Linked DNA regions of Homo sapiens. The protein of the gene in region 1 purifies or fractionates together with the protein of each later gene. This does not show direct contact. Each region holds a gene or a part of one and is shown on either strand. Other genes may lie near its edges.

The links.
Region 2: the proteins of LPIN3 (region 1) and CAMKK1 purify together in Homo sapiens (affinity purification with mass spectrometry; 2 studies listed by BioGRID and IntAct, with this or other methods). This does not show direct contact.

The regions. Positions count from the first base shown.
Region 1 is NC_000020.11:41,343,763-41,347,670, forward strand, and holds part of LPIN3 (phosphatidate phosphatase LPIN3), read left to right. Parts: intron 1-2,033; 5' UTR 2,034-2,041; coding exon 2,042-2,233; intron 2,234-3,789; coding exon 3,790-3,885; intron 3,886-3,908. UniProt on the Homo sapiens protein: Magnesium-dependent phosphatidate phosphatase enzyme which catalyzes the conversion of phosphatidic acid to diacylglycerol during triglyceride, phosphatidylcholine and phosphatidylethanolamine biosynthesis therefore regulates fatty acid metabolism.
Region 2 is NC_000017.11:3,886,368-3,890,275, reverse strand, and holds part of CAMKK1 (calcium/calmodulin-dependent protein kinase kinase 1), read left to right. Parts: intron 1-3,908. UniProt on the Homo sapiens protein: Calcium/calmodulin-dependent protein kinase that belongs to a proposed calcium-triggered signaling cascade involved in a number of cellular processes. Phosphorylates CAMK1, CAMK1D, CAMK1G and CAMK4. Involved in regulating cell apoptosis.

The DNA.
Region 1 (3,908 bases):
AAAATGCAGATGCTAGGCCAGGTGCAATGGCTCACGCCTGTAGTCCCGGCACTTTGGTAGGCCAAGGTGGGAGGATCACTTGAGTCCAGGAGTTTGAGACCAACGTGGGCAACATAGTGAGACCCTGTCTCTACAAAAGAAATTTAAAAGTTAGCCAGTTATGGTGGTACATGCCTGTAGTCCCAGCTACTCAGGAGGCTGAGGCAGGAGGATCACTAGAGCCTGGGAGGTTGAGGCCGCAGTGAGTCATTTTGGTGCCACTGCACACCAGCCTGGGTAACAGAGTGAGATCCTGTCTCAAAAAAAAAAAAGAAAAGAAAAGAAAAGAAAAATATGCAGATGCTGATTCAGTAGGGCTGAGTTGGGCCTAAGTTTCTGTTTCTAACAAGCTCCCAGGTGATGCTGATGCTGATGTTTGTTGCTGGTGCATACCACATTTTGAGTGCAGGGCATTGCAGGGCTGTGCAGAAGTGGCCATGGGCCATGCAACCAACTCTTGGGTGGTTTGGAAGCATGGAGTGGAAGGAGACCATGCTCTAGAGTCAGGAGAGCTGGATATGAGTCTTTACTCCCTCTCTCCCCTCCCTATACCCCTTCTATGGCCTGTCAGCTTAGAAGAGCTTGAATAGTTTCCTCACCTGTAAAGTCACTTAACCTTGGGTAAGTCACTTAGCTTCTTTGCTAAGTGGTCTTGCATGGCAGGCTGTCCTCCAGGGGTTCTGACCCAGGGTCTGAGAGAAGAAAGTGCTCTGTAGAGATAGGACAGTCTGGGTCTTGGCAGGCAGAGGGGCAGCAGGCCACTGGCCTGGCCAGGAGGGCAGGGGTGATCACCTGAAGCTGCTGGGGCAGGCACTGTGCCAGCTTGGAGGAGGCTCTCATCATAGCCCTGTTTTTTCTCTGAGGCCGCCTCAGCCTCCTGCTTTGGGCTTACCCAGGCCTGTCTGGTGTGGGAAAGCTGGAGAGACCGGTCTGGCTGGGGGAGGGAGCAGCTTCAGTGGGCTGAGGCCAGCCCAAGGCCTGATTGTGGGTCTGAGCGCCTAGCCAGCTCAGCCCTGGTCTGAGGAGCTGGGGTTAGGGTTGAAATTGGGGTCTGAGAACTATAGCCTGGACACCGCTGGGGTCAGGCTGTGCATGGACAGGCTTCCCACCAGGGAAACTGGGAAGGAATTTGTAGTTTGGGGCCTTAAGCCCCCAGCTATAGGGGATGCTCTGCCTTGAGCATCTGACCCCAGGAATGGGGCTGAACAGAGCCTTGAGTACCTGGGGTGCTCCCACCCTTGGTCCCCCATAAGTCAGCTACAATCGCCCAGCAAGACACCTTCCAACTCACAGGACCAGCAGATAGCAAGACAGCTGAGCCCATTTCTCAGATGGAAAAGTGGAGGCTCCTTCGTTCCCACTTCTTGGGAAAAGAAGAGTACTCATTAGCACAGTCACCCATTATCCAGCAGGGCCCTGGGCCTGCTATCTAATGAGGCTGCCCCCTCTTCCCACCCCCTCCGTTTTCACAGTTGGACCATCCCAGTGGAACCACACAAACCTGGGTTCAGATCTCAGGTTCCCTCCTTCATAGTTATGAGGCTCTGGGCAGGTCACTCCACCTCTCTGAGCCTCTGCTGGCTCATCTGTAAACAGGAATAATGACACCCGCTCAGCCAGCCCCACAGGGTTGTTGTGAAGATGAAATGAGCCGTACCCACGGAACACTGTGGTCATTATCATTAGTCATGGCATTTAGAGGCACGAGGCAACTGGGTATTGTTTTACCTTGTGCCCTATTTTACAGATGTGGACATCGGCACTTGGGGAAGGAGGCGGCTGCCCAAGGGTCCCTTAGCAGGGCAGTGGGCAAGCTGGGGTTAGACCCACATCTACAGGTGTACCTCCCATCGCACAGCTGCTGCCATCTGTGCAAAGGCACTCCAAGGCGTGACACAAATGTAAACTTGGGGGTCTGTGTGGTCAGGCTGCAGGAGCTTCTTGTGGAGGAGCTGGAGCAGACCTTTGTGCAAGCCACTGCCTTTCTTTGCCAGCACCAGCCATGAACTACGTGGGGCAGCTGGCGGAGACGGTGTTTGGGACGGTGAAGGAGCTGTACCGGGGCCTGAACCCAGCCACACTGAGCGGCGGCATTGACGTGCTGGTGGTGAAGCAGGTGGACGGCTCGTTCCGGTGCTCACCCTTCCACGTGCGTTTTGGCAAGCTGGGCGTCCTGCGGTCGCGGGAGAAGGTGGTGAGTGCTCAGGCTGGCTGAGGTGGCTACTGCAGAGTGGGCTTTTTAAGCTGGGGCAGCCACTACAGTCCCAGGACAGGACCTGGGGCCTCCCTTAGGTGGGGATCTGTCCTCTGGACAGGCTTCCCTTCATTTGTACTTTCTTTGAAGGTTTTTGGGTTGATTTGGGGGTTTTGGTCTGGGAGGGTTCACAGTTAGTTTCTCATGGAAACAGACCAGTAGGGCTCATCCCAGTGCTGGGGCCGTCAGACCTGGCTCAGCTTACTAAGACCTTACCTGTGTGTTCTTGGTAAGTCACTTCATGCCTCTGAGCCCAGTTACTTCACCTGCACAAATGGATATGATTTTATCGGCCTAATGATGCTGGTGGGACAAGTCAATAGCAACTGATAATACTGTCTCAGGGCCAGCTATGTGGGAAACACTCAAATGTTAGTTTCTCTCTCTTAATAAATCCACTTCAGGCTGGGCATGGTGGCTCACGCCTATAATCCCAGCACTTTGGGAGGCCGACGCTGGTGGATCACCTGAGGTCAGGAGTTTGAGACCAGCCTGGCCCACATGGTGAAACCCAGTCTCTACCAAAAATAGAAAAATTAGCCGGGTGTGGTGGTGGGCACCTGTAATCCCAGCCACTCCGGAGGCTGAGGCAGGAGAATCGCTTGAATCCAGGAGGCAGAGATTGCAGTGAGCCAAGATTGTGCCATTGCACTCTAGCCTGGGCGACAAGAGCGAAACTCCGTCTCAAAAAATAAATAAATAAATAAAAATAAATAAATAAATCCATTCCACCTTCACAGGGCTCAGGCAAGCACAGCAGAGATTTTTGTTAGCAGCAAGGTCTAGGGTGTGAATCAAGATTCACACTGAGGCAACTGTGACGTTTCCAGGATCCTAATAGAAAAGTGTAGCCTATGGGAAATAGTATATCTAAGAGGCTAGTAGCTTGGGTTGTAGACTCAGCCTTTTTGGCTTCATAAGCTCACTTGCTGTGAGGCTGCCTCCTAACCAATTACTCAAACCCCCAAAGCCTCAGTTTCCTCATCTGTAAAGTGGAGGTAATGATAGGAGCTACTGCAAGGGGTTGCAGAGATTAAATGAGATAATCTATAGAAAACACTCCACAAAGGGCCAGTACACTAAAATTCCCACCATTGTTTATGCAGCCAATAACCTGGGGGCTGGGGACACAGCGATCACAAGAGAGACCACGTCCCTATTCTTATGGATGTGAGAGACAGAGGGAAGAACTTGGAAACCAGGCAATACACAAGAAGACCGAGACAGTGACAAGTACAATGAGGCTCAGACAGTGGGGCAGTGTGAGTGAGGGAGAGATGGGTAGGGAGCTCAGTGAAGGCCTCTCTGAGGAAGGGGAGATGCAGCAGAGCCCCCCTTCGTGGGGAGCAGCCAGGCACTTGAGGTCCGGAGGGAGGGAACCCCAGCAAGTATGGTGTTTGGGGCGGCAAGGAGCCACTGGAGGACCAGCCAGGAGGCCTGTGGTCGGAAGCATGGGCGTGAAGGCCCATGTCCCTGCCACCGCTTTCCATTTGCAGGTAGACATTGAGCTCAATGGGGAGCCTGTGGACTTGCACATGAAGCTTGGGGACAGCGGGGAGGCCTTCTTTGTTCAGGAGCTGGAGAGCGATGATGTGAGTCTGCCCTCCTAACAGCA
Region 2 (3,908 bases), on another chromosome or scaffold:
GCAGGAGTCGTCAAGCATGACTTGGCACCAGACGCCTGGGCCTCCCTCAAGGGGACTGAGTCATCCCGGGTGGGGGCGGGAGCTGCGGAGGGCACCCGTTGCCAGGGCCATCCAGATACTCGCCAGGATCATAAACACAGCTCCAGTGAGGCGGCCCAGGCATGGGAGGACCACCTTCTGTGTCTGGCCTGGGTGGCCGCCACCTCTGCGGCTTTCCCTTCTGTTCGGTCCTCTGCTGGTCACGGCTGTCCATCCCCTCGCCTGGATGTAGCTGGTCCCCTGCCTCGGCTTGGCACTGGGGTTCACAGCGGCCTTCCAGCGCTCAGAATGAGGCCTGACCAGGGCCTGACCAGCTCCCAGGTGGAGCTACTTGAACCCGCGTGGATGGCAGCAGGGTCTGCCTGCTCTGGGGCTCCTTTGAGGGATGCAGCTGGATGGGGCATGTCCTGTGGAAGAAGCCAGGCCAAGTGGGCGTCTGGAGCCGGGGGCCCACATTCCTTGGGAGTGGCCAGACGCTTGGGGGGTGGGGCACAGCCTGGGAGGAAAAACCTGGGTGGGGGATATGTGCCAGGCCATCTTGGAGCTGGGGGCAGAGGTGGGGTTGGACCTTGCACATCAAGGCTCTCTTGGACGCTTCTAGACACAGCCACATCCCAGCCCCACAGTGCTGTGGCACAAACTACTCCTGTGTCCACACCTCATTCTGTTCCTTCCATCGCCCTGGGAGTTGGCAGGACAGTGGCCTTCTGCTTGATGCACGTGTTAGGAAACAGAGGCTCCAAGAGGCTCGATGACTTGTCCGAGGCAGCAGATCCCCAGTCTGGGGGGACAGGATTGCAGTAGTTTTTCCCAATGAGGGAGGGCTTGAGTCTGGCTGTTCACGGCCGCAGGACTAAGCCAGTGCCCATGCCCACAGGAATCCTTCGCTGTACCATGGGCCTGGTTCCCGGCCTGTCTGTCCATCTTTCTGTTTGCCCACATGGCCCTAGTTATCCACCGAATTAAGTTTCTACAGAGTATCTACTAAGGCCTGAGCTTGGGAAGGGCCTTGAGACACCCCCTGTGTGAGCCTCCAGATGGGCCTGGGTTTCCGCCCGGGGCACAGAATCCAGCCCAGCAGGCAGTGCCAGGCTGGTGGGACCAGTGACTATGGGGAAAAGTCCAGATATGAGCTCTGGGATCAGGCTCCCAGGGCCCCCAGGGGCGCGGACCACCCCCCTACCCTGGGCATAGGTACACGGAGACCTGCAGGCACACAGGCGCATAAACACACCTGCGCACACACACATCACACCGAGGTTTTCATCTCCATGCAGTGCGCTCCTGTGTGGGGACCCACAACACACACACACACACACACACGCCACCACCCTGGTCCACAGCCTGCGCACACATATTCCCTCCTGTGGGGACACACGCCCTCACACACGCGGCCGGGGCGCCAGGCCCTGTCTCCCGGACACGCGGCAGGAACCTCGGGCCTCCCCGGCCGGCCGCCTCCCTCGCAGACGCGCTTAGTCACCTGAATTTGATCCAGGCGGGAGGGAGGGATGGGGAGCCTGACGTCAGCCCTCGCGGCCGCCTTCCGCCCGCCCGCGCATCCATCTGGGCCTCAGCGTGTCCCGAGCAATCACAACAGCAGCCGCACAACAACAACTCACTTTTACGGCCTCCTTAGTGGCAGGCACTGTTCTGAGCGCCTTACGGGCGTTCCCTCCTCAGCATCTCACCACGTGCGGTGAGGTGAGGCCCGCTAGAACCCCATCTTGCGGGCGAGGAAAACCCAAGGCACAGAGGCGAAGCCACCTGCTCACGGGCTCCCAGCCAGGAAAGGGTGCAGCCTGGCTGCCTGGCTTCAGAGCCTGGGCGCCAAACCGGGTAACAGGGCTCAGGCTGGAACAGGAAACCTTCTGCCCCGACTTGCTGGGTGACCCCGGGCCCATCCCCACCCGCTGGGCCTCCCTCTACCTATCTAAGAAAAGCAGGGAAAGGTGTTCAAGGGTAAAGGAGGATGGCCTCTTGCTGGAATGGCAACCTCAAGGAAATACGCAAATTTTATGGGCCCGGGCAGCCTGTGGCTTCTGCCTGTGGCGGCTCTGAGTCCCGTAGTCCCTGCCTAGGGCCAAAAAGCAGGAGCTCCTGACTCTGGAGTTCATTCTGTTATATGTGCTGGGGCCTGAGGCTTGCTGGGGTTGCCTCTCTGAGGCTGCTTTCTCATCTGTCTAATGGGGACAGGGCTGTAACGATCACTATGGCAACCACTCATTTATTCAACAAATATTTATCGAGTTCCTATCACATGCCAGGCACTGATGATCTTTTGGAGACAAGGCAGATGAGCGTCCTAATCTCATGAAACTTACATTCGGGAGGGAAAAACAAGGCATGCGGAGTGAGGGGAAGGGGCGGAGGGGTGGGCCACCTGCTGGGAGGAGCCTGGCGGGTCCTGGAGGGTGTTCCCAGCTTTGGCTTCCTCCTTCCTATGCTGTCTGGTTTCCAAGCTCTCCCCGAAGCTCCAGCCCCACTCACTGTCCCTCTCACCTCCTCCAGGGAGGCCTCCCTATGCCACAGCCTCTCACCTCCTCTGGGGAGGCCTCCTTATGCCACAGCCCCACTCTCTGTCCTCTCTCACCTCCTCCAGGGAGGCCTCCCTGTGCCACAGCCCCACTCCCTGTCCCCTCTCACCTCCTCCAGGGAGGCCTCCTTGTGCCACAGCCGCACTCACTGTCTCCTGCCCTCTCTTCCAGGGAGGCCTCCCTGATACTCTAGCCTCACTCAGCCTCCTCACCTCCTTCACCTCCTCCAGGGAGGCCTCCTTGATGTTCCAGCCTCATTAACTCCCTCTCACTCCTCTGGGTCCAGCTTCCATGACTTTTCCTGTTCCTAGTGTGGAGCCTCCTCTCTTCCTTTCTCCATGTCAGCACCAGCCCCACCGCCTCCAGGCTTCTACTCATTCAACACACTGCGTACCGGGCACAGGGGGTCTGGACCTCACCCTTACCCTCAGTCTACCTCCAAACCCTGCTGTGAGCCTGGAAAATATGGGAAGGCAGGGAATCCACAGGACAAGTCGGGAGACTGGGGCTCAGAGTCGGGAAGGAGCTGGTCTAGGGCCCCTGGTGGGTCAGCAGGCAGGACTGGAACCCAGTCCTGGCTCCTCAGTGGCCGGTGGACTCCAGCCAGCCCTGCCTCGCTGACATCTGTCAAAGCAAGGGGATGGGGAACGAGCGGTAGAGCAGGCGCTTCACCATGCGTACTCTGGGTCTCCCTGAGACCCATGTTCTCAGTTGCTGTGTGGGTTCGGAGGAAGTTACCAGCAGACAGGAAGGATGGAGGGTCAGGAGTTCACTCACTTCCTTCTCCTGAGAACATGCAGAGTCCAGCGCAAGCAGGGGGAAGGGCATCAGGTTGGGCATGGCCAGCGCTCTACAAGCCTGGGACAGAGATGGGGGTCTCAGGCTGAGTGTCAGGGTTCAGTCCGGGGTCAGGATGTAGCCCAGGGTCATGGCTGAAGGTGAGGGCTGGGGGTCACCTCCCTGATGTTTCAGCCGCCACACAGTGAGTTTGAGAACATGAGTCTCAGGGGATGTCATGCCCCTGTTTCACCCCTCATTCCCCTCATTCTCATCCCCTTGCTTTTTTTTGAAACCGAGTCTTGCTCCGTCACCCAGGCTGGAGTGTAGTGGCGTGATCTTGGCTCACTGCAACCTCCACCTCCCAAGTTCACACGATTCTCCTGCCTCAGCCTCCCGAGTAGATGGGATTTCAGGTGCACGCCACCATGCCTGGCTAATTTTTGTATTTTTAATAGAGACAGAGTTTTGCCATGTTAGCCAGGCTAGTCTCGAACTTCTGACCTCAGGTGATCCACCTGCCTCGGCCTCCCAAAGTGCTGGGATTACAAGTGT